Linked DNA regions of Homo sapiens. The protein of the gene in region 3 purifies or fractionates together with the protein of the main gene of each other region. This does not show direct contact. Each region holds a gene or a part of one and is shown on either strand. Other genes may lie near its edges.

Evidence for each region.
Region 1: the proteins of SUCLA2 (region 3) and MCCC1 purify together in Homo sapiens (affinity purification with mass spectrometry; 2 studies listed by BioGRID and IntAct, with this or other methods). This does not show direct contact.
Region 2: the proteins of SUCLA2 (region 3) and LONP2 purify together in Homo sapiens (affinity purification with mass spectrometry; 2 studies listed by BioGRID and IntAct, with this or other methods). This does not show direct contact.
Region 4: the proteins of SUCLA2 (region 3) and NFU1 fractionate together in Homo sapiens (co-fractionation; one large-scale study listed by BioGRID). This does not show direct contact.
Region 5: the proteins of SUCLA2 (region 3) and IQGAP2 purify together in Homo sapiens (affinity purification with mass spectrometry; 2 studies listed by BioGRID and IntAct, with this or other methods). This does not show direct contact.
Region 6: the proteins of SUCLA2 (region 3) and GTPBP10 purify together in Homo sapiens (affinity purification with mass spectrometry; 2 studies listed by BioGRID and IntAct, with this or other methods). This does not show direct contact.
Region 7: the proteins of SUCLA2 (region 3) and MTNAP1 purify together in Homo sapiens (affinity purification with mass spectrometry; 2 studies listed by BioGRID and IntAct, with this or other methods). This does not show direct contact.

Annotation. Positions count from the first base shown.
Region 1 is NC_000003.12:183,017,108-183,019,496, forward strand, and holds part of MCCC1 (methylcrotonoyl-CoA carboxylase subunit alpha, mitochondrial isoform 1 precursor), read right to left. Parts: intron 231-2,389; coding exon 159-230; intron 1-158.
Region 2 is NC_000016.10:48,271,800-48,275,299, reverse strand, and holds part of LONP2 (lon protease homolog 2, peroxisomal), read right to left. Parts: intron 1-3,500. UniProt on the Homo sapiens protein: ATP-dependent serine protease that mediates the selective degradation of misfolded and unassembled polypeptides in the peroxisomal matrix.
Region 3 is NC_000013.11:47,991,274-47,994,773, forward strand, and holds part of SUCLA2 (succinate--CoA ligase [ADP-forming] subunit beta, mitochondrial precursor), read right to left. Parts: intron 1-3,500. UniProt on the Homo sapiens protein: ATP-specific succinyl-CoA synthetase functions in the citric acid cycle (TCA), coupling the hydrolysis of succinyl-CoA to the synthesis of ATP and thus represents the only step of substrate-level phosphorylation in the TCA.
Region 4 is NC_000002.12:69,430,936-69,434,435, reverse strand, and holds part of NFU1 (NFU1 iron-sulfur cluster scaffold homolog, mitochondrial), read left to right. Parts: intron 1-2,430; coding exon 2,431-2,534; intron 2,535-3,500. UniProt on the Homo sapiens protein: Iron-sulfur cluster scaffold protein which can assemble [4Fe-4S] clusters and deliver them to target proteins.
Region 5 is NC_000005.10:76,696,785-76,700,284, reverse strand, and holds part of IQGAP2 (ras GTPase-activating-like protein IQGAP2), read right to left. Parts: intron 2,299-3,500; coding exon 2,138-2,298; intron 1-2,137. UniProt on the Homo sapiens protein: Binds to activated CDC42 and RAC1 but does not seem to stimulate their GTPase activity. Associates with calmodulin.
Region 6 is NC_000007.14:90,353,216-90,356,715, reverse strand, and holds part of GTPBP10 (GTP-binding protein 10), read right to left. Parts: intron 2,259-3,500; coding exon 2,167-2,258; intron 1,631-2,166; coding exon 1,486-1,630; intron 1,010-1,485; exon of another isoform or gene 1-1,009. UniProt on the Homo sapiens protein: May be involved in the ribosome maturation process. Complements an ObgE(CgtA) function in E.coli ribosome maturation. Plays a role of GTPase in vitro. When missing, disorganization of the nucleolar architecture is observed.
Region 7 is NC_000017.11:73,230,969-73,235,232, reverse strand, and holds the start of MTNAP1 (mitochondrial nucleoid-associated protein 1), read right to left. Parts: upstream 2,801-4,264; 5' UTR 2,744-2,800; exon of another isoform or gene 2,604-2,743; intron 2,573-2,603; exon of another isoform or gene 2,516-2,572; intron 2,078-2,515; exon of another isoform or gene 2,014-2,077; 5' UTR 1,908-2,013; intron 1,777-1,907; exon of another isoform or gene 1,265-1,776; intron 1-1,264. Other genes in the region: protein VCF1, read left to right, coding at 2,927-3,147. UniProt on the Homo sapiens protein: Critical regulator of mitochondrial DNA (mtDNA) abundance. Binds dsDNA throughout the mitochondrial genome without sequence specificity and controls mtDNA copy number by promoting its replication.

The DNA.
Region 1 (2,389 bases), on a different chromosome or scaffold from region 3:
CAAGAAGGATAGTTTGGTTTTGTTTCCTACAATTAATGCTTCGTCAATCATGGCTTTTCATATTTAAGGTGGTATTAACTTACAAAATAAGGCAAAAGAACCATTAGGTATGATTGCTCCCAAAGTCCTCATAGCAAATGAACTCATGATTTCCTTACCTCCATCTTCATGGCGATCATAACCATGAGGGAATCTCCCGCTTTCACTTTGTCTCCAGCTTTGACAAACACCTTGAGATTCAGTGTGACAGGTTAATATTTGAAAACACAGAGGTCCTAGATATGTTCATCTGCTTCATTATAGTAACCATTTTACTGTCTATATATACTCATAACATCATGTTGCAAACCATGAATATAAACAATAAAACATAAATAAAAAGAAAAAAAACAACACAGAGGTCCTTTGTGGTCCACAGATTTGGTATATAAACTTACAGAGCAGAAGTAGAGCCCATGTGGTTGTGCCATCTGCCAAATGCACTGGTCAAATCAGAGGCCTACAGCCCAAATATACAGGTCAAATCTGAGACCTACAGCCCAAATGCACTGGTCAAATCAGAGGCCTACAGGTCAAATGCACTGGTCAAATCAGAGGCTTACAGCCCAAATGTACAGGTCAAATCTGAGACCTACAGCCCAAATGTACTGGTCAAATCAGAGGCCTACAGCCCAAATGTACTGGTCAAATCAGAGGCCTACAGCCCAAATGTACTGGTCAAATCAGAGGCCTACAGCCCAAATGCACTGGTCAAATCAGAGGCCTACAGGTCAAATGTACTGGTCAAATCAGAGGCCTACAGCCCAAATGTACTGGTCAAATCAGAGGCCTACAGGTCAAATGCACTGGTCAAATCAGAGGCCTACAGCCCAAATGCACTGGTCAAATCAGAGGCCTACAGGTCAAATGCACTGGTCAAATCAGAGGCCTACAGCCCAAATGCACTGGTCAAATCAGAGGCCTACAGCCCAAATGTACTCGTCAAATAAGAGGCCTACAGGTCAAATGCACTGGTCAAATCAGAGGCCTACAGCCCAAATGCACTGGTCAAATCAGAGGCCTACAGCCCAAATGCACTGGTCAAATCAGAGGCCTACAGGTCAAATGCACTGGTCAAATCAGAGGCCTACAGCCCAAATGCACTGGTCAAATCAGAGGCCTACAGGTCAAATGTACTGGTCAAATCAGAGGCCTACAGCCCAAATGTACTGGTCAAATCAGAGGCCTACAGGTCAAATGCACTGGTCAAATCAGAGGCCTACAGCCCAAATGCACTGGTCAAATCAGAGGCCTACAGGTCAAATGCACTGGTCAAATCAGAGGCCTACAGCCCAAATGTACTGGTCAAATCAGAGGCCTACAGGTCAAATGCACTGGTCAAATCAGAGGCCTACAGCCCAAATGCACTAGTCAAATGAGAGCCCTACAGGTCAATCTGGCATTGCTGGCACTGTCGTCCATGGGTAGCACTGCTTAGTCCCCTGTCCCCACCCACAAAACCACTTAGTTTTACTTGAATCACATGAATATACTCCATGTATTTTGAAATCCTTTCATTTTTTTCAAGAATGTAGAAACAAGACACATTGCCAGTAGGGAAGGACTAATATACTTAAATGTCTTCCCCAGAGAGGGAAGAGGGATGAGGGTCTTGACTGGTTTTCTTGTTTTGGGGTTGTCTAGGGCTAAGTATAGTAAGTGTGTTTGAAGTCTTCAGAGCCCTGTGTAGTAAATGTGAAGACAATCTTCATGCAACAGAATCAAACTTATTAGCAACCCCAGAAAGAGATTTCTATTTTCTTTTGTATACATATAAATGGACTCATAGATCCTATATGGTCTCACTTTCGTTTTGGTTAACATGGCTACTAAGTGGGAGACTAACAGAGTTGTGCAGAGATGCCTGCACTATGAGAGGCCTGTGGGAACTGAAATCAAATGAGCTAAAGGCAGATCCAGGTCTCCTAGCTCATACCCACTTGGGGTAAATATTTCCAAACGAGAATAGTGGCTGAAATCACCCACACTATTTAAGTAGTTATTTTCTTCTTCTTCTTTTTTTGTTCCAAGCATATACAGTTGAGTTTTTATGATTTAAGTGTATTTGAGGAGACTCTACTGTATTCAAGTATATAAAAGGAGACTACGGATACTGATCTATCACCATTTGATGTTATATCAGTATGTGCTAGGGTCTAAATGTCTATATCCCTCCAGAATTCATTTGTTAAAATCCTGACCTCCAGGATGATGGTATTTGGAGGTGGGGCCTTTAGCAGGTGATTAGGTCATGAGGGATCTGGCCTCATGAAAGAGATTAGTGCCCTTATGAAAGAGGCCTGAAGAGAGGTCCCTTGTCCCTTCCACCACGTGAGGACACAGAGAAAAA
Region 2 (3,500 bases), on a different chromosome or scaffold from region 3:
TCTGAATACTATTTTGGGCAAATTACTTGACCTAAGCCTCAGTTTCCTCACCTATAAGATGGGGAAAATAGTGTCAACCTGGTGGGTTATATTAATATAAGGATCATGAGAGAACACAGGCAAAGCACACAGCACGGTCCCTGGCACACAGTGAGCTTTCCAGTGATGCTCATCATTATTAGCAACAGCTACTTAAAGTTTACTTCTGGTTTCCTGGAAAAAGCACAAGAGCAGAATTCAGTACACCTGAATTTGAGTCCCATTTCAATTTCTGCCTCATGGAAGCAACTTTTGCAAATGTCTTTTATAGCAGACAAGAGAGAAAAATATAGGCATTTCACCATCCACTCTTCCTACCTATTCAATTAAAGGGCTCGGCTCCCGCAGGCTATAATGCAAACTGTTAAAATAAAATTTACAAAGAATTTGGAATAGAAAAGAGTTTAAGTGTTACAATGTTAAGTGAAAATGACAGGATTACAATTCTGTTACTTAAAATCCAATGATAAGTCTGGCAGAACAAAACAAATGTTAACAGTGATTATCTTTGTACGGTAGAAAAACATGAGGATTTTTTCCCCTTATTTTTCACATTTTCTACCAAGGGTGTGTGGATGTGTGGGTGTGGGTGTGGGTGGGTGTGTGGGTGTGTGTGTGTATCTCAAACTGGAAAAAGGAATCAGTTTAAAAAAGATCCTAATGATCTCAAAAAGAAAAACAGTCTTTAAGAAACTGGGATTTTAATGTATAATAGCATGTCTAAACAAATGCAATTATTCTTCTGGTAGTCATTCCTAAATCTTTTTATAGACTAATTTGTATGGGTGTACTCGTCTAAAGGGTTGCATAACTTCCAAAATATTATGTTTTAATCTTACATGAATTCACAAAACACCCAGAGAGCGCTCACCACATTTAGCACCATGTTAAATAAGCATCATGGGGTACATAAAGGAGATAGACGATAAATCCCCTGCCTGAGAAAGCTTGTACTTTTTATAAACGTATTTATGTTTCATCTCCACAGTTGTATGGTAGAAATGCCAGAGGCCCGTATTCGATAAAGGAGCACAATAGGTGGTCAGTTTAGAGAAGAGTGAAATCATAACTGACTGCACTTACATTAATGGAGGAAGCCTTGGGTTGAGGCCTTAAAATAAACCTAAGTTTTGGAGAGGCAAAGAAGAGCTACATGCAAATGTAAGTTGAAAGGATAGTGGGCAAACCATAATATATCTGGTACACTATGCTAAAAAAATACATTAGAAGCTTGCTGCTTCAGTTATTTTTCCCTTGTAGAAACTAATAATGAAATAGTTTATTTATAACTTTACCATTTCAGGTTGCATATGAAAATGTATCAATGTGGAAATCACAAGTTCATTTTTCTTCTCATCTTGTTTGAAAGTTGAGACAAGGATTTCTTGCAATAATATAATTTTATTATCTAAGTAAACAGCTGGTAAAGTATTTCTAGGAGTTAATATCCACAGTGATTTAAGATATATCATAACAATAATATATTATTTCTTTTTACCAAAGAACAAATGAAAAACAATTATGCAAACATTATTTCATAAAACTTCATCTTAAAAGAAGTTAGTTACCTTATATTTGTGTGAATTGACTTAAATTATTTAAATGTAATACTTAAATATAAAAATTTAAGTTGTTAAAACTGATAGAAGGGAATGAGTATTTTGTGGCTTACAAAGTGGACAGAAAAATCACAATGGAGATAAATCCAAATGAGAAATATCGAAAAGACTGAAAAACTGAATGAGTTAATACGTAGCATAAACATTATTCTTCCTTTAAGCTACTCAAAACAATACAGACAAAAATGAGGCAATGTTTAGTCAGATCACTATTATTTTCCAAGTTTAAGATTAAATATTAAGGCAAGCCTCTCTTTTGCTTCCCCATCTCCCACCTCATTATCATTTAACCATAAAAAACATATCTTTGCTTGTTTTTAAAATCAATCCCCAACTTATCGGCATCCTTCTTCTCATACGCAGGTACTTTTAGCAAAAGGAAAGTGTTCCACACATGGGAAAACAGGGAGAGTGAGTGGCAAAATCGAGAGGATAAGCAAGGACAATAACAAAGCAGCTTTCTTTTTCCCTGGCTTTCTTTTTCCTTGGCTATTCTAAGGCTGCGGAACAGTGGTGCCTACTCAAAGGCTGAGGAAAAACAAAACTTTTCATGAACTCTAACTGTGAGCATGTGACCGGTACTCAAACGTCAAGACCTGGGTTGTCTCCCAAATGCCTCAACTGTCACATGGAACCACATGTTCCCCCAGGCACACCCATGGTTGTGCTGGAATTGTCGGTTGTTCTTTCTCTCCTCCTCCTATTCACCTTCAATTCATAACTGACCTAAGTGCATGCTCTGCCCTCACCCTTTCCTCAACAACTGAACCCCACTACTCTCCACGTGCTTCCAAACAGGGTTTGAAATAAAATTTTTCACCAGGCTTTAATAATTCACGGGGTAGATGGGTAATATGTCCCCAACAGCACAAGGGCAGGTTGCTATAGTAGTTAATCAAACATCTGGTACACTGATGGCTAAGTAACACTTACCAGCAAGGTGTATCTAAAATCAGGCTGAATAGAATGATTCACAAAACAAATCCTTATACTTTTTACTCGGCAACAATCACAGCCTCCATATATACGTTTCTAAAAAGGTTATATTTACAAATATTTTAGGCAATGGTGATTGTAACACAACCTCCTTTTACAAAAGACCCATAAAGTCAATTCTTATTTTCTTCAGACTCAATTTTCTTAATACAGTCACATACACAAAAGCATATTCACTTGAAAAAAAGAACAAATTTTATATGTCAGTAAGGATTTAAAATAGAGATTTATTTTAATCCAGTGATGTTTGTAAGTGGTGAGAACCATGACACTATACACTGTCCATTAGTAGGCAACAGAAAAATGCATTTTCCCATAATTCTGCCGTATAAATTAAGTAATAATGCTGAGAATAGGATAAATATTTTAGAAGGCAATTAAAAAATCAGATTGAAATTTATAAAAACTCATACTGAAGCTTGTAAATCTAAATTTGTCCTCCTGAGAATTTATTAATAGAATTTAAATAATGGTTAAAGCTAATTTTTAGTGAATGCTCACTGTGTGTCAGGTATTGAATAAGTGCTTTCCAAGCCTTATCAAATAATCAATACCAATGTGAAAAGAAATAAGAACAAATTACCTACATGTCACGTGCTTATGATGTCAATTTCACATAGCATTAATTCCACGAACTCACTCTCTAAATGCCATCAAATACTTACTCTGTAGCTAAAATTAGAAGATTTAGGCCCTAGACGCAGCTTCTTTGAGTTTGGTCCAAGAGAAATGCCAATTCCTTTACGAAAGCAAACTATAGCCTCTAGTGGTACATGCAAGAATAAGAAGTCTAGGCAACAAAAATATCTTTTGAAATTGCCAGAAGAAATCACCCAAATCAATTCT
Region 3 (3,500 bases):
CCTAGGCCCTCCTGGTTGCTCACTCTGTTCCAACTGCACTAATCCCCTCACTATTCCTGGGCATGTTCCTGCCTTCAGGACTTGGCTCTAATGCACCCTCTGCCTAGAATACTCTTCACCAGGTGTCCATGTGGGAAAAGCCCCCGATCCTTCAAGTTTCTCTTTAAATCTCATGTTGCCCATGAAGCTTACCCTACTAACCTGCCCACCTGTGACCAATCCCCCTTACCTACTACACTTCTTTCCGCCATAGAATTCATCATCTTCGTACATATGTAATTCTCTTACATATATCATTTGTTGTTTTGCTTCCCCATCAGAAAAGAGGCCCAGGAGGGCAGAATCTTTGTTGTATTCATAGATGTTAACAAGCGTCTGGGAGAGTTCCTAGCACATAATATTTTGCTGAATGTTGAAAAAAAGGAACATTTAAAAATATGAACAGAATTCTTATAAATCTAGATTTCTTCACTGCTCTTACGAAAACTCCCAATGGGAAAAACTGGGTGCACAGTACTACAACTAGAGCTGATTAGAAAAAGTATCTTGTTTAGATAAGACAAACCCTTTTCAATTACCCTGTCTCTACTATTCACAAATGTATCACAACTAATATTAGGTAACAAATAGAAACAACTCAGAAATTTCCTTAAAACCAACAATAACGTTCTTATTGAGAATACTACAGGTTGTCTCTGAACCATGGCAAATTAGAGAGTTTGTGCCCAAACGGAAGGGAGCAGCCACTATTTATTCCACTTGTTTCTGTTTACCTGTCCAGTCCTGATTTTCCAGCACTTTAAATATTTGTTTATATCCGAAGAAGAGAACTACAAGGCAAACAGTGCAAATGTAATGTAAAAAATGGTCATAGTTACACTGTGCTTTACTGAGCTAAATTCAATCATTCCTATTCATTAAACTGGGAACTTAACACATTGACCTATTAAGAGTAACGAAGCTCTATTTTTTCAAAAACACTTGGCAAGACAGAAGGTTCTTCTCTTCCCCGCAAAGTGTCAATTTCCTTTCTTTAGGAATATAAAGTCTTTAAGGGCAAAAGATGATTCTTCGAAAGTTCCTTCTAAAAAAAAAAAGCCCTTCACAACGAAAGCAAAAAAAAAAAAAAAAAAAAAATTTTTCATGAAATACAGTCTCATCAACTATCAAGAAAGGAAGAAAGATTAGAAGAGAAGTCTGAGGACAACTGGTCGAAACAAACATTTTATTCAATTCCATTAATTCACTCAACAGGTTCATCTACATACCAGACACTGTGCTAGCGTTGTAGATACAACAGTGAGTGAGACCTCTCCTGCCCTCATAGAACCTGCAGTCTTATTACATTTGGCACTGCTCTAGTCAGACAAGATCTTTTTTGGATCCCAAGACTGTCTCTAAAACACAATCACTATCCCAGCTACCTTTAGTCACTCACAAACATTTTAAGCATTCCTTGTATACAGGTATCTAACTAATAAATATTTAAAAGAAAGAAAGAAGGTAAAGTCCTATTATATGCCATTAGAAATCTCCCTCCGGGCTGACATTCATTAATCAGCACCCTTTACATGTATCTATTCAACCAGATAGGGATTCCACCTTAAATATACTAGAAGCCAAACTATCTTTCTATAGTCAATAGGGAAATTATAAAAATTCTGCCAAATCTGTGCCCAGGCGCAGTGGCTCACGCCTGTAGTCCCAGCACTTTGGGAAGCCAAGGGTGGGTGGAAGGCTTGAGCCCCGGAGTTTGAGACCAGCCTGGGCAACATGGTGAAACCCCATCTCAAGAAAAAATACAAAAATTAGCCAGGCATGGTGGAGCACACCTATAGTCCCAGCTACTCAGCAGGCTGAGACGGGAGAAGTGGCTTGAGCCCAGGAGGTCGAAGCTGCAATGAGCCATGATCACACCACTGCACTCCAGCCTGGGTGACAGAACAAGACACTGTCTCAGAAACAAAACAACAAACATTCTGCCAAACCCTTACTAAAATCATATTTCCTTGAACTATGAACTGTTAGAGATAATTTGCTCTCAGAACTGACCCCAAATAATATCTACTACATTTATCTGTGCTAATAACCATCCCTTTGATAATCTATTCCAGAAACTTCATGATCTTCAAGCTCACCAACCTTCATTTTGGGGACTCATATAGTCTTTTAAAATATTAGAATTAGATTTCTTTCTAACCATTCCTCCATTCCTAACCTCAATTATTCACAGCAGGTAAAACTTGCCTACAGGACAATGCCTCTCAACTTTTTTCACATCATCACACAAACAGAAAATGATGGACATGGTAGGAAATACTGGGTAAAGAGGCTCAGTGGCCCCAAACCCCATGCTAACTCAACTTCTCCTGCCACCACAGGACTGGGAAGAAACAATAGTTTGGCACACCTGTAAAGCATTTATGTTCTATTATGTCACTTGTTGAGCAAAGCGCTGAGTTAAGAGTTTTTATGAAGGCCAGGCCTGGTGGCTCACGCCTATTGTAATCCCAGCACTTTGGGAGGGTGAGGCAGGTGGATCACCTGAGGTCGGGAGTTTAAGACCAGCCTGATCAACATGGAGAAACCCTGTCTCTACTAAAAATACAAAATTAGCCGGGGTGGTGGCACATGCCTGTAATCCCAGCTACTCAGGAGGCTGAGGCAGGAGAACTGCTTGAACCCAGGAGGCAGAGGTTGCTTGAACCCAGGAGGCGGAGGTTGCGGTGAGCTGAGATGGCGCCATTGCACTCCAGCCTGGGCAACAAGAACGAAACTCCGTCTCAAAAAAAAAAAAAAGAGTTTTTATGAAATGAAAATTAGCATTTTATGAATTTTGCAGAAAGTCAAAAAGCAAAAATCACCCTGAAGTAATGAAAACTCAGCATTGGGAATTGCTAGCTACATGAACAAAACCAAGTGTATTTCTAAGGTCCCTCATTCTACACCTTGTGCAACTAGATCCCATAATCGTTATCTTTTGTTATCAATGACTCACTAAAAACACAAAATTGGGCTGGGTGCGGTGGCTCACGCCTGTAATCCCAGCACTTTGGGAGGCCTAGGCGGGTGGATCACAAGGTCAGGGGTTCGAGACCAGCCTGACCAACATGGTGAAACCCCGTCTCTACTAAAAATACAAAAATTAGCTGGGCATGGTGGCGGGCACCTGTAATCCCAGCTACTCAGGAGGCTGAGGCAGGAGAATTGCTTGAACCTGGGAGACGGAGGTTGCAGTGAGCCGAGATCGCGCCACTGCACTCCAGCCTGGGCGACAGAGTGAGACTCCGTCTCAAAAAAAAAAAAAAAAAAAAAACCACGAAATTGTCCTCCATATTTTCATAGACGTTTCTAAATTTATCTTTTAAAAACTAGCATTTCTGCTCCTCTAGATTTAAATTTCCTTGTTAATTATTAGTCTCCCTCCCACACTATAATCATCATTTGCAATATTCTTTGACAAAAAACACACTTTCTAAATGAACAAGGTATCTGTTCCA
Region 4 (3,500 bases), on a different chromosome or scaffold from region 3:
GCGCTGTGGCTCACGCCTGTAATCCCAGCACTTTGGGAGGCCGAGGCTAGTGGATCATGAGGTCAGGAGTTCAAGACCAGCCTGGCCAAGATGGTGAAACCCTGTCTCTACTAAAAATACAAAAATTAGCCGGGCATGGTGGTGGGCATCTATAATCCCAGCTACTTGGGAGGCTGAGGCGGAGAATTGCTTGAACCCAGGAGGCGGAGGTTGCAGTGAGCCAAGATCGCACCACTGCACTCCATCCTGGGCGACAGAGCAAGACTCCGTCTCACAAAAAAAAAAAGAAAAAAAAAAGTGAAGTGAAGTTACAACACTGGGTTAATATGTTTCCATCCAAAAAGCATATAAAAGGCAGGGCATGGTGGCTCACGCCTATAATCCCAGCACTTTGGGAGGCCAAAGTGGGAGGATTACTTGAGCCAGGAGCTGGAGATCAGCCTGAGCAACATAGTGGTAATCCATCTCTACCAGAAGTAAAAAAAAAAAAAAAAACTAGCTGGGCATGGTGGCATACAGCTGTAGTGTCACCTACTTGGGAGGCTGAGGTGGGAGAATCACTTGAGCCTAGGATGTTGAGGCTGCAGTGAGCCCTGATCACACCATTGTACTCCAGCATGGGTGACAGAACAAGACCCTGTCTCAAAACAAAACACGAAAAGCGTGATCAAGATCGTTGGCTGTGTAATCCCAGCATTTTGGGAGGCCAAGGCAGGTGGATCACTTTAGGTCAGGAGTTGGAGATCAGCCTGGCCAACGTGGTGAAACCCTGTCTCTACTAAAAATATAAAAATTAGCCGGGTGTGATGGTGTACACCTGTAATCCCAGCTACTAGGGAGGCTGAGGCAAGAGAATCACTTGAACCCAGGAGGTGGAGGTTGCAGTAAGCTGGGATCGCATCACTGCACTCCAGCGTGGGCGACAAAGTGAGACTCAGTCTCAAAAAAAAAAGACGGGCCAGGTGTGGTGTCTCATGCCTGTAATCTCAGCACTTTGGGAGGCCGATACGGGAGGATCACCTGAGGTCAAGAGTTCGAGACCATCCTGGCCAACATGGTGAAACCCTGTCTCTACTAAAAAGTACAAAAATTAGCCAGGCATGGTGGCGGGCACCTGTAATCTCAGCTACTCGGGAGGCTGAGGCAGCAGAATTGCTGGCACCTGGGAGATGGAGGTTGCAGTGAGCCGAGATTGTGCCATTGCACTCCAGCCTGGGCCAACAACAGTGAGACTCCATCTCAAAAACAAAAAGGACAGTCGTATACTTTTTTTTTTTTTTTTTTTGGAGATGGAGTCTTGCTCTTTGGGCCAGGCTGGAGTGCAGTGGCACGATCTCGGCTCACTGCAACCTACGCCTCCTGGGTTCAAGCGATTCCTCTGCCTCAGCCTCCCGAGTAGCTGGGATTACAGGCGCCCACCACCACTCCCAGCTATTTTTTGTATTTTTAGTAGAGATGGAGTTGCACCATGTTGGGCAGGCTCGTCTCGAACTCCTGACCTCAGGTGATCCACCTGCCTTGGCCTCCCAAAGTGCTGGCATTACAGGCGTGAGCCACCACCCCTGGCCCAATAGTATACTTTCTTTTAGATTTTTTGAAGTATTGAAATACTTTTCAAAACAGGTAATATAGGTTATCTTGAGAGAGGGAAACGTAAGGGACAGGAAAGGAGGGAGGCTTTCACTATTTATGCTTTTTTCCCTTACCAGTTTTGAACCATGTGACTCTATTGCCTAATTCTAAATTTTTTAAAAAAATAAAAAAGCTTATAGTTATTTGCTTCCTTCCTGTATAACCAAGAGTCTGGGACTATGGGTTATAAATTACTAATGTAGATACAATTCTGTTTCTTTTTTTTTTTGAGGTAGAGTTTCACTCTTGTTGCCCAGGCTGGAGTGCAATGGCATGATGTTGGCTCACTGCAACCTCTGCCTCCTGGGTTCAAGCAATTCTCCTGCCTCAGCCTCCTGAGTAGCTGGGATTACAGGCATGTGCCACCATGCCCGGCTAATTTTGTATTTTTAGTAGAGATGGGGTTTCTCCATGTTGGTCAGGCTGGTCTTGAACTCCCAACCTCACGTGATCCACCTGCCTCGGCCTCCCAAAATGCTGGGATTACAGGCGTGAGCCACCTCACCCAGCCCAATTCTGTTTCTTATACCTCAATGTTATATTATCCTGTGCACACCCGGTTATCAAGGGTAGGAATTTCCATTTGAGCTCTACCTGATTTTGAATTGTTTGTAGATATTGCTTGCCTAAGTAAGTGGAAATAATGTAGATGGAAGATGAAAAGTCAGTTCTCTAATTATTTCTATTGCGGGTTATGTTTAAATTTTACATAGGTCTTTTTTATACATGAGAAGTAGAAACCAACTTTAAAAGATTAGAGCTCTTAAAATGTCATTCATTATGTGCTTTTAAATGCAGGTTCTGTCATATGTTGAAGAATCCATACACCATTAAGAAACAGCCTCTGCATCAGTTTGTACAAAGACCACTTTTCCCACTACCTGCAGCCTTTTATCACCCAGGTAAAATTTCACCTCTTTTATAGCAGTTGTGTTTCAGAAACTGATGGAACTGTGCTAGGATTTTGTGGATCATAAAAGATGAGAATTTGTATATTTTCTATTTAGAAGCCTATAGATAGAATATAGGAAAAAAAGCTATATTTTTCTTATAGGCTTCTAAGTAGAAAATGTATTTGCAAGGATATTGTCCAATAGATCTATGAAATCTCAGTATGTTGTATAACATATCCCCTGCAACACAAGAGTTGCTCAATAAATGATTTCCAAAATGAAAATACTGTAGAAGTTAAAATCTGACTGGGTGTGGTGGCTCATGCCTGTAATCCCAGTACTTTGAGAGGCTGAGGCAGGTTGATCGCTTGAGCCCAGGAGTTTGAGACCAGCCTGGGCAACACAGCAAAACCCTGTCTCTACAAAAAATACAAAAAATTAGCTGGGCATGGTGGCGCACACGTGTAGTCCCAGCTGCTTGGGAGGCTGAGGTGGGAGAATCCCTTTAGCCCAGGAGTTCAAGCTTGCAGTGAGCCGTGATCACACCACTGTGCTCCAGCCTGGGTGACAAAGTGGGACCCTGTCTCAAAAAGAAGTTTCAAATGGGGATTGTGTTTCAAAGAATTCTATGTATTTAAAGCTACTGCTGTCCTTTTTTTGGATAAGAATACCCTTAAAATTAGTAAATTTCTGGCTTTCATCCAGACCTTAGAACACAGGATTTTGAATGTAGTAAAAAACTACATTCAAAAAAAAGAAAGAAAAGCTTTTTTGTCAAAATTAATTACTATGGTTTTGTTAATAATCTTGATTGTTAACGAGATATATACTTTAATTTTCTTTAATTTGGGAAATAGATATGATTTAAAATAATTTGAAGTGTGATGACTGTAATGTAGAGTTAGGGAAGTTTAAGGGGAGAGGGTATGTGTGTCTGCATGTGTGTATGTATGTAAATGTATACCTATATGTGTT
Region 5 (3,500 bases), on a different chromosome or scaffold from region 3:
CTTAAGGATGAGAAAACTGAGGCTCAAAGTTCACTGAACTGGGCTCAAGATCACACGACATAAGAGAGAATCAGAACCCAAATCCAATTCGCCCGACTGTGGATCTTGTGTGAAATGCCTTAAAGTAAATCCCTAACAATCTCATTTCTACTGAAAGTAAGCTTGACCAACTTCTTCCTTGCATGTATATGTATATATTCTTCCTTCCTTCCTATATTTAGTGTATAGTGTATATGTTTATGTAATTATAAGTGCATATGCACACTATATGTAGTGTGTGTATATACATATTTAGTGTATTTTTGTATATATATATATATAGAGAGAGAGAGCACGAGAGTGAGAGAGAGAGAGAGAGAGAGAGAGAGAGAGAGAGAGAGAAACAGAAAGAAGCCTGAAGCAAATGAACTATATATGGAGAGAGAGAGAGCACGAGAGTGAGAGAGAGAGAGAGAGAGAGAGAGAGAGAGAGAGAGAGAGAGAAACAGAAAGAAGCCTGAAGCAAATGAACTATATATGGAGAGAGAGAGAGCACGAGAGTGAGAGTGAGAGAGAGAGAGAGAGAAACAGAGAGAAGCCTGAAGCAAATGAACTATATATGGAGAGAGAGAGAGCACGAGAGTGAGAGAGAGAGAGAGAGAGAGAGAGAGAGAGAGAGAGAGAGAGAGAGAGAGAGAGAAACAGAGAGAAGCCTGAAGCAAATGAACTAAAATTCAGGACTAGTGGGAGCCAAATCAATAAGGTTTAAATGTGGCTGCATCCCTTTATCAAATCTTCTGTGATTTCAGCAATCCAACTTCTGGGTGTTTACTCCAAGATGTGAAATCAGTTTGTCAAAGAGATGTCTGCACTCCCATCTTCATTGCAGCACTACTCACACGTTAGCTAAGTTATGAAATCAACCTAAGAATCTACTAACAGATGAACAGGTAAAGAAAATGTGGTATATATACACACAGAAGAATACTATTCGGCCCTAAAACAAAGAAATTCTGACATTTGGGGCAATGTGGACAGAATTAGAGGACACTATGCTAAGTGAAATAGGCCAGGCACAGAAAGGCAAATACCACATGTTCTCGCTTATATGTGGAATCTAAAAAAGTTGAACTCATAGAAGCAGAATAGAATGGTGGTTTCAGAGGCTGGAGGGTGGGGGAAACGGGGAGATGATGGTCAAAGGATATGAAATCTTAGGAGGAATCAGTTTTTTTTTGAAATCTATTGCACAGTGTGGTGAATATAGCTAATAATAATGTATTGCACATTTAAAAACTGCTAGGAGTAAATTTCAAGTGTTCTTATCACAAAAACTAAGTATTTGAGGTGATGCATATATGAATTAATTATTTCACATTGTAATAATAAATGATAACATCACCTTGTACCCCAGGAATACATAAAATTATAGTCAATTTGCAATAAAATTTAAAAGATCTATGATTAATGCAACAGATTTTTCCATACAGCACCATTTCCTCCTGCCAATTTGATGACAAGGATTATATAAAAATATTGTACTACATATTTAAATGGGTAATTAAAATTTAACTAGCATTGATCATAGTCTAGTGATAAGAATAATTACTAAGCAAAGGATATTCATTAAAAATGGCTATACTGTATATAAAAACCTATAATACTTATGCTAATGGATAATAGACAGCTGCCAAATTTTGCCAGTTGTGTCAATAATTTTTTAAAACCATGAAGCAATTTAAAAACATTCAGCTGCTCTGTGCAATTAGCAAACACCTGGCATTATCTAATATTATCAATTATATAAAATACATTCCAAAAACAAGAGACTTTAAAAATAATAGTATTTAAAAAAATCTTTGGCTAAAAAAGACAAAAGGAATAATGAAAGTGCTTCCCTAACTTACTAATGCTATTTGCTCAATATACAACAGGTAAGCCACTTTAATTCTAGTGCTGGTGGGGAATTGAAAAGCTTTCACTTACTCCTGACTTCTTAGTTCACAGTGGCAAATAATAAAACTGAGACTCTAGTTTTCGGTTAGAAGACAGAGCAAAAAGTTTTCTTCCATACCCAACCCAACTGCCTAGAAACACAGAATTGACATCTCATAGAAATCATGACATTACAAATGAACATGACATGATTTTAACTTACTTTCTTTTTAAGTTGTCTAAACAAGTCTTTATGTAGGTGTCATAATAATTGATTTGCTCTTCATAAAATGCTGCCTTCTTGTTAAGTGCATTCAGGGTCTGCTGAAGTTTTGCCAATTCAGCTTTTCGAAGCTTACGATAGATTCTTTGATTTCGAATATCCTAAAACAACAAGTAAGGGGTATCATATTTAAGCAGAAGTTTGCTTTATGATATTGCCAGTTTGGGACAAGAAGAATATCAAGCAGTAGTAAGTCGCTATTTGTAACTTGACTTGTAGCTTATCTCAGGCACCTTATTTTACTCTCAACACCACAGGGTTCCCATCCCTTTTTACTTCAGAACTGGAAAGTGTACATATTTCACTTTAAGAGACTTGTTAACATTAATTTTGCTCTGGATGGAAAGGCAAAGAAGTTATTTTAGAATAACCACACATTTAGTTTAAGGAAAAATTGCGTTTTAAAAGGGGCACAAAGTAGCAGAAATGCAATTTCTTCAGACTTTTTTTTTTAGACATAGTCTTGCTCTGTCACCCAGGCTGGAGTGCAGTGGCCTGATCTCTGCAACCTTTACCTCCAGGTTCAAGCGATTCTCCTGCCTCAGCCTCCTGAGTAGCTGGGGCTGCAGGCCCGTGCCAATATGCCTGGCTAATTTTTGTATTTTTAGTAGTTACAGGGTTTCACCATGTTGGTCAGGCTGGTCTTGAACTCCTGACCTCAAGTGATCTGCCCGCCTCGGCCTCCCGAAGTGCTGGGATTATAGGCATGAGACATTGTGCCCAGCCTCTTCAGACTATTTTGAATATTCCTCTTTGAATAGTACTTTAAACTAAAAAAGTTTACATTTAATTGTTAAATTCATTTTTAAAATAAGAAAAGAACAAACTTTTTCATCTGACAAATATTTCCCAAGGTTTGAAAAAACAACACTGGGCTGTCAAGACTGAGTGAAAAGATTCAACATTGATAACTATTACTTGGATTTAAATAGAATTCCTAGAACATTAAGTTGCATAAGCTGCTTATAGCTTACAAGAGCTATGCTAAATTTAAACTTGCAGATATAAGTTTTTTTCATAATTCTAATTGGTAAGTTATGAAAATGTTTGACTTAAGAAAACGGTGCCTGTTTAATATTATTTTTCTTTTGTAAACAAGTTAAAAACCATTCCCCTAGGAATTCAAAGAAATACCTACATACACATACACTCCCCCACAACTTCCCCATGCCCTTAGGTAAAATTTCTTCATTAAATAGAATATTCTTCATTAAATAGAATTCTTCATTAAATAGAAATTCTTCATATAATAGAATATTCATTAAATAGAATATCATGTCTTCATGATAGCCTTTTTCTTTTT
Region 6 (3,500 bases), on a different chromosome or scaffold from region 3:
TATTAAAGATGAGAAAACAAATGACGTGGTGAAAAGCAAAAAACTATAGTGAAGGAAGAATGAGAGAAAAGAAAAGAAAAAAAGAAGAGAAAACAAAGGCTTAGAGAGGCTGTGTAATTTACCCAAGACCAGCTGGCCAGCCTCCAGAGGATTTGAGATCCTAACCTAAATAGTCTAACCTGAGTCCTCCATGCCACTCCACTTTTATGACTAAGCCGTGCTAGGCTCCTCTTAGACTGTAAAGTTGTCTCTTCAGAACTTGAAACACATGTTTATGCAAAATGCAACTGTGATTGGCTGGACTGCCAGTCTTGTCCATAAGACCCTATTAAGCCCATAATGTTCCTAAAAATATAGAGGATTATAGAACTTACATCTAATAACTCTTGTAACTGTGCTTTATTGAAAAAAATAAATGTAAATGGCAAGCCAGGATCACATCTTTCCTTGTTATAATTTTAGCAGGAATGGGGCCTCTGTGAACCCTAAACCAATGGTGGTAAGCTCTAGTGGCTGGTCAGGCAGGGCAAAAGACGAGGGATACAGACTTAAGAGTCTGGTAAAGAAGCAGTGAGATGACTGAAGAGGAACATGAAAAGAACTTAGAAAGAAGCTATGGGGAAGCAAAAAATAGAACTAGGAATTTGGAGTAGGACAGTAATAAGGCAGTTTTCCTTATCTTGTCCTTAAGCTTTCCATCTGAATAACTGTGTAATACTGTGATAGGGCCAGAGGGAGAGGATAGGAGGGAGGGGGGATGGGGGAGAGAGAGCAAATGCAAATTGAAGTTTTCTCTTCCTTTATGTATTCTGTATCTTACTATCTATCCCCTTCCAGTGGGCAGCTGCACTGCAAACCCCACAGCTAAACAGCATTATTTAATGAAAGAATGGAGGCTGGTGGAAGAGGACACTCTTGTGAGGCCTACATTGCTGAGACTAGATAGATCCTAAGCAGAGGCAAGAAGGATATACAGTCATAGCAGGATTCAATTTGGCGGCAACAGTGCGTAAGTCTGAGGATTGAGATTGTCTGTACTGGTCTTTAGCCATTTGATTAACGATACTTTAATGTCTCTATTAAGACCCAAAAGAGTTATGTCAACCATTTTTCCCTGTTTATTTCCTTCTATATATTTTTAATAATAATACGGTTTGTTTGGATTTATTATTAATATCTGGTAACATTATTTAACCATCTTGTAATATTGCATTTGATTGATTTTTCTTTCTTTATGCATTCTCTAACATTCCCACTGATCTATTCAATTGCTCTGGTCTTAATTTTATAAATAAGCAATAACTATGAAACTCTGTGTTGGCAATTTGAAAATAATATTTAGCAGCATATTTTCCAAGTACATACACAACACACAAATTCCATAAATTAGAAATAATTATGGCCCCAAATTACCATTTACATTTATTTTCTATTCAAGAACTCTCTCTCTGAAAGTATAATAATAAAAATATGAACGATACTTACCCTACTAGGCCTACATCAGCTATAAGTTTTAGATCAAGGTGAATTATTCGTTTCTGGCCTTTCAATGGTAAGAAATTTGTAAGTAATTTACCACCAAGACCTCCTTGAGCTACCAAAATTCTGTCATTTTCTTTATTGAGTTCTCCTTAAAAAGAGGGAGAGAAATACTTACAGCAAAGATTAATAAGTGAAATCACTAATGCAATATATTTCTTTCAGAAATACAGGCAAAGAAATGCAAAATTACAAATCTATAGATTAGTAAGTGAAATCATTAATGTAATATTTTACTTTCAAAAATACATGCCAGGAAATTCTCAATTACAAATCTATAATTAATAAGTAGAATCATTAATGTAATATTGTTCTTTCAGAAAAACAGTCCAGGAAATTCCAATTTACAAATCTATTAAAAGTTTGACCCCAGAAAAACACTTCAGTAAACAATTGAAAAGAGCCTAGTTATATATTTTAAGACCAAGTAAGAACTGTAACATCTTTAAAACAATCTTAAATCTAGCAGTCAATTTAACTTTTATAAGTTTTAAAAATGCTCTCTTATAGAATAGTAGCTAAAATTGTTAGTTAAAAAATCTTCTGAAACTCAAGAGAAGCTATTCCATTGTTTCATTTTAGAAAACGTGCACATTTTTACAACTTTTGGAGTTATAGTACACTCACCTATAATTTTACCATTTTCATCAGTTACTGAAATACCCACAGGCACAGGGATTTCACAGTCTTTTCCTTTGGAGCCTTTCAGTGCACTAATTCTACCAAAAAAAAAGTATATATATGTATGTATGTGTGTGTGTATATATACACACACACACATACACACAAAATGGTTTACAAAGAAGAGTAGCAATCAATTCTCTGGTTAACGCAGATGTTAAATGGTCAAACACGGGGTTTAAAAAAACTAAAATTATCCCTAATTATTTCTTTGCATTTTAGACTATTATATCCCACTAAAATGGCATTAAGTAATGATTTAAGTTACTAAGCTAACCACCAAAGGTCATTTTAACCCGAAACTAAAATATTGCAACCATGAAATGAAGAGATTATTGCTACAATACAAATAGGGTAGAAAAAGCCAGGCGTGGTGGCTCACGCCTGTAATCTCAGCACTTTGGGAGGCGGAGGCAGGAGGATCTCTTGAGTCCAGGAGTTCAAGACAAGCCTGAACACCATAGCACGACCCCATTTCTACAAAAAAAGAAAAATTTAAAAATTAGCTGGGCATGGTGGCACATACCCGTAGTCTCAGCTACTTGGGAGGCAGAGGTGGGAGGATCACTTCAGCCTGAAAGGTAGAGGCTGCAGTGAGCTATGATAGTGCCCACTACACTCAACCTAGGCAACAGAATGAGACTCTGTCTCAAAAAAAAAAGAAAAAATGAATCTATAAAAAAAAAAAGAAAATCCACCAAATAGCAAAGCTTTTAAAAAACTAACCTCAAATGAGAGTACTTACATTATAGAAGGCAAATCTGGCTACTCTTAAACTGCTCATAAAAGAAAAAATTAGTACAAATGTTTTAGTAATTCTACTTCTGGGAATTTATCAAAATAATAATTGAACAAACATGTAAAATAGTATCTACACAGAATGCTGCACTGTGGTTATAATCGGAAAAAAAAATCAACAATAACCTAAATAGACAAATGACAAAATAGTTATTTATTATGCAGGTATTCTGAATAATTTTGACATGTGAAAAAAAGTAAAAATAGCAGATTGTAAAATACTGTACTCTCATTTTTGTATTCTAAACTTTTAGGCACATAATTGCATTTGTGTAAACACACAGAAAAGTCTTAGAAAAGTCAAGAAAAGGTTAATAGTGGTTATCTTGCCTTCTAATGGTGGTGGGGTAGAGTAGCATGGTTAAGACTGAAAGTTTTCTAAAAGGTTGTCAAAGATAATTTTAGAAGAAAACAGTGGGAATTCAGATAATTATCGGTTTCTACAGGGGAAGTGCAAAAAGAATACAGATAGACATTGGGAA
Region 7 (4,264 bases), on a different chromosome or scaffold from region 3:
TTTATTTATTTTGGAAACAGAGTCTCACTCTGTCACCCAGGCTGGAGTGCAGTGGCACAATATCTGCTCACTGCAAACTCCGCCTCCCAGGTTCAAGCAATTCTCGTCTCAGCCTCCCAAGTAGTTGGGACTACAGGGGCATGCCACCACGCCTGACTAATTTTTTGTATTTTAGTAAAGACGGGGTTTCACCGTGTCCGTGTTACCCAGACTGGTCTCGAACTCCTGAGCTCTGGCAATCCACCCACCTCAGCCCCCTAAAGTGCTGAGATTACAGGCGCGAGCTACCACGCCCACGCCCAGCCAAAGGTTACTGATTACAGCAGAGGTTTCCAAAGTGATAAATAGAATATGCACTAGGGTGTAAGAAGAAAATATTAGAATTACCACAATCAAAGAATGAGAAATGAAGCTCTACTAACATTTAGTAATATGCATATACACACACACACACACACAGATATACATAAAATGTATGCATAATGCACAAATATATACATGGCCAAGGACACAGTCCTGTTTTTCACTTATACTTTTTTTTTTTTTTTTTTGAGACAGAGTCTCACTCTGTCACCAGGCCGGAGTGCAGTGTCGGCTCACTGAAACCTCCATTTCCCAGGTTCAAGCTATTGTCCTGCCTCAGCATCCCGAGGAGCTGGGACTACAGGCATGCGCCACCACGCCAGGCTAATTTTTGTATTTTTAGTAGAGACGGGGTTTCACCATGTTGGCCAGGATGGTCTCAATCTCCTGACTTCGTGATCTGCCCGCCTTCGGCCTTCCAGTGTGCTGGGATTACAGGCGTGAGACACCACGCCTGGCCTACTTATAGTTTCTAGTACAACAGATTACTGGCAAATTAGTTTGACATCTTTGTTAAACATATACGATGTAAAAAATTAAAAAAAAAACATTTATACCATGTATATTTGTACCTGTTATTCTTTAGAGTCCAGAAAAGAAAATGTTTAATTCCAATGTTTAGTTGAAAGTTATTTCCTTTCTACATCTCTTATTCTTTCTATAAAGTTCCAGAGGGCAGGAAACATATCTATCCTGCACACAGCTGTATGTAAAAACCTAGCACTGAGCCTGGCATACAATATTTGTTCACTTAATTCTTTAGATATAAACGTTTAAATATTATTCAGTACTACAACTGATAATATCTTCTGACTACCAAAGAGATTAAAAAGGGTGACTGAAACCACTTACAAAATAGACACAATCTTCACCAATCCATTCAATAAAGCAACCAACCCACCTTATCCTGTACGAAGTCCTTCAAAACAAAACTGTTTTCTGCCAACAGATTACAGTAATCATTTTTACTTTGTTGTTGTTTGGTCTTTTTTTTTTTGAGATGGAGTCTTGCTCTATCACTCAGGCTGGAGTGCAGTGGCGCGATCTCGGCTCACAGCAACCTCAGCCTCCCAGGTTCAAACGGTTCTCCTGCCTCAGCCTCCCGCGTGGCTGGGATTACTGGGATTAAGGGCGTGCGCCACCACGCCCAGCTAATTTTAGTATTTTTAGTAGAGACGGGGTTTCACCATGTTGGCCAGGCTGGTCTTGAACTCCTGACCTCAGGTGATCCACCCGCCTCGGCCTCCCAAAGTGCTGGGACTACAGGCGTGAGCCACCGCGCCCAGCCTGCTGGGATTACAGGCGTGAGCCATCATTCTTTCTTTCTTTGGAGGTACACACTAACAGGATGAAAGCCACAGACTGTTTGTTTACAATAATACACACAAATGAAGCCAGTCCATGGACCTTCGGCTAACAACGTTAGGAAGGGCTTGACACCTGCTAGACGTTTCTGCCTCCACTCCACCTCACACTCAACCCTACTTGAAAGATCCCGGTACATTCCCACGATAACGTCTATACGTGGGTGTCTGTTTTCTTACCCGAGCTCCTCCAGGAGGATGCTAGTTTTGTGGGTGCTTCTCCCGGATCCCCATGCTTCCCCGATCACCGTTCCCGAGTGTGGCAGAATGAAACGTGAATGTCAGCCTGTGTAGGACACGATCAGACAGGTGACTTGGCAGCATGCACAGTGAGTAAACGCGGCACGATACTGAACCAAATAGAAACACAGGTTCCGGAAAGCAGAGAGTTAAGACCTCCCCAGCCTCCGGGCTCAAGGAGGACCTCAATAGTTCCACTAATCCTCACCCTCACCTCCGGCGCTCTCCAGCCGCCTTTCCCTCCTCCCGCTGCGTTACCAGCCTGCCCACCTCCCCGCACCCTTCCTTTCCCTGAAAGCTGTTCTGATTCTGCCAGCTGTTCTGATTCTGCGGAGTGGATGGGGTCGGCCCGGCAGCTCCTGGGTCAGGGACAGCCGTTCCCGCAGCCCCACCGAGGATTTCCTCCTGCGGTTCCAGGAAGACCCTCCGCCGGCCCCGGCACCCGATTCCCTACCCTCTCCGCTCAGGAGAGTCTCCCCCAGACTTAGAACGTGGGCCGCGGAAAACAAACCCGCCCTTGCAAGCTCCCCACAGAGCACCGTCCTCACCTCGGAAGACCTGAAAGCCCAGGCGGCCCCGGCGACAAGCCCCCCAGGGAAGCCCCCCAGGCCCCTGCCCAACCCCCGGCCAAGGAACCTCGTCAGGCCGTCTGCACCACTGCCGGATAGGTCCGCCTGTTTTAAAATATGTTACACGGATTCAACTCAAATACTTGTATGATATTATTATGACATAATTGAATTTATTTGAAACCTGGCTTGACTTTTATACCGTACCCTCCGTTGGCTGTGAACAGGCGAGCGCTTCTGCCACCCCAGGGGAGGTCCTTTCTCCCAGAAGCTCCTAGTCGCTCCTCCCGCTCCGAGCCCGCCTCTTCCCGTGGGCGGGGTTACCAGTCGGTGCGGTTGGGATGGTGCCACTGCGCAGCCGCGAGAGGGCGGTACCACGGCGGCAGCGACATGGGGGGGCGCGGAGCAGACGCCGGAAGTAGTGGTGGTACGGGTCCGACTGAGGGGTACTCGCCACCGGCTGCGTCCACCCGAGCGGCTGCGAGAGCCAAGGCCCGAGGGGGTGGGCGTGGCGGCCGCCGAAACACAACCCCCTCTGTTCCCTCTCTTCGCGGAGCGGCGCCGCGTAGCTTCCATCCGCCAGCTGCCATGAGCGAGCGCCTCCGTCCCAGGTGAGAGGGAAGGGACCCCCTTTCCATTCGTCGCCTGAGGATCTGGGAGATAGAGCCGAGGGGGCGCGCGAAATGGGGGTCGGAGCAAGAGTGGACCCGGCGGGGCTCCCTGTGGGGTGCACTGCGGGCCGGGGGAGGAGGGGAGAGGGATGCGCGAGTGATCGGATGCTTGGTTCCTGTGGGTAGCTGGAAGGTGACTCTCCGGGGTCCAGGTCTCCCGCCCCTCCATCTTTTTTCCCCCCTGTCTTTTCCTATTTGGAACGAAGTGTGATCGGTCCCGGAAGAGAGACGGTGGCCCTAAAGCTTTCCTGTCCTAAATTTAGGAGGGTGGGGGGATGGGATAAACGTCTCATCTTGGAGAGGGAGCCCCCAAAGGCTTTTGTGAGGGCACCGGGCGGGGAGCTGCCGGCTCCCCAAGGTCAGAAAGAAAGGTTGGGCTTAACCCCGCAGCAGGGAAAGATTCGGTTAGACCGAAGAACTTGTGCCCTGAACGGTTGTGAACACAGAAGGGCAGATGACCAAGGCGGGTTATGGATCTTCTCTTGACTGTGGCATTAAGAACAAGCTGGATTCTAAACTGTTTGGATTGCGGGGCCGTTTGACTCCGAAGGCGGGAGGAAAGATTTTATCGCGATGCACTCGCTACCTTCCCGAGGGAGCCTGGCCTCGGGACGCGGGTCTTAAATTAGGGGTTCTGTGCTTGACATGTACTACTAGAGTCCGGACTAAGTTGGGATTTCTTAATTTTTTTCTCTCTCTTAATTTCCTCTGCAAGAATGTGTGGAGGAGAAAGTTGGGAAAGGTTACCTCAGAATGCTCTTCCTGTTACGGTCTTTCCACAAGGATCCTTCTCTGAAATAATTATTTCATGTGATTGAAGTTCTCAAAAGTATTCTGAGTTTATTTGGTCCCATAGTGAAAACCTAGGGTTCCCCAAGCTGCTGCATTGGATTATTGATTTGGGTCATGTAGCAGGTGGAGCATAAAGCCTCTCCTTGTATAGAAAAGAAGAGTGGACTAAATTTGAAATTGGGGGCCCAATTACAGACATGCCATCGGAATTAGGAGCAAGATCTTTAGATACAGTGAATCTGACCCGACTGCCATATTATTCTTT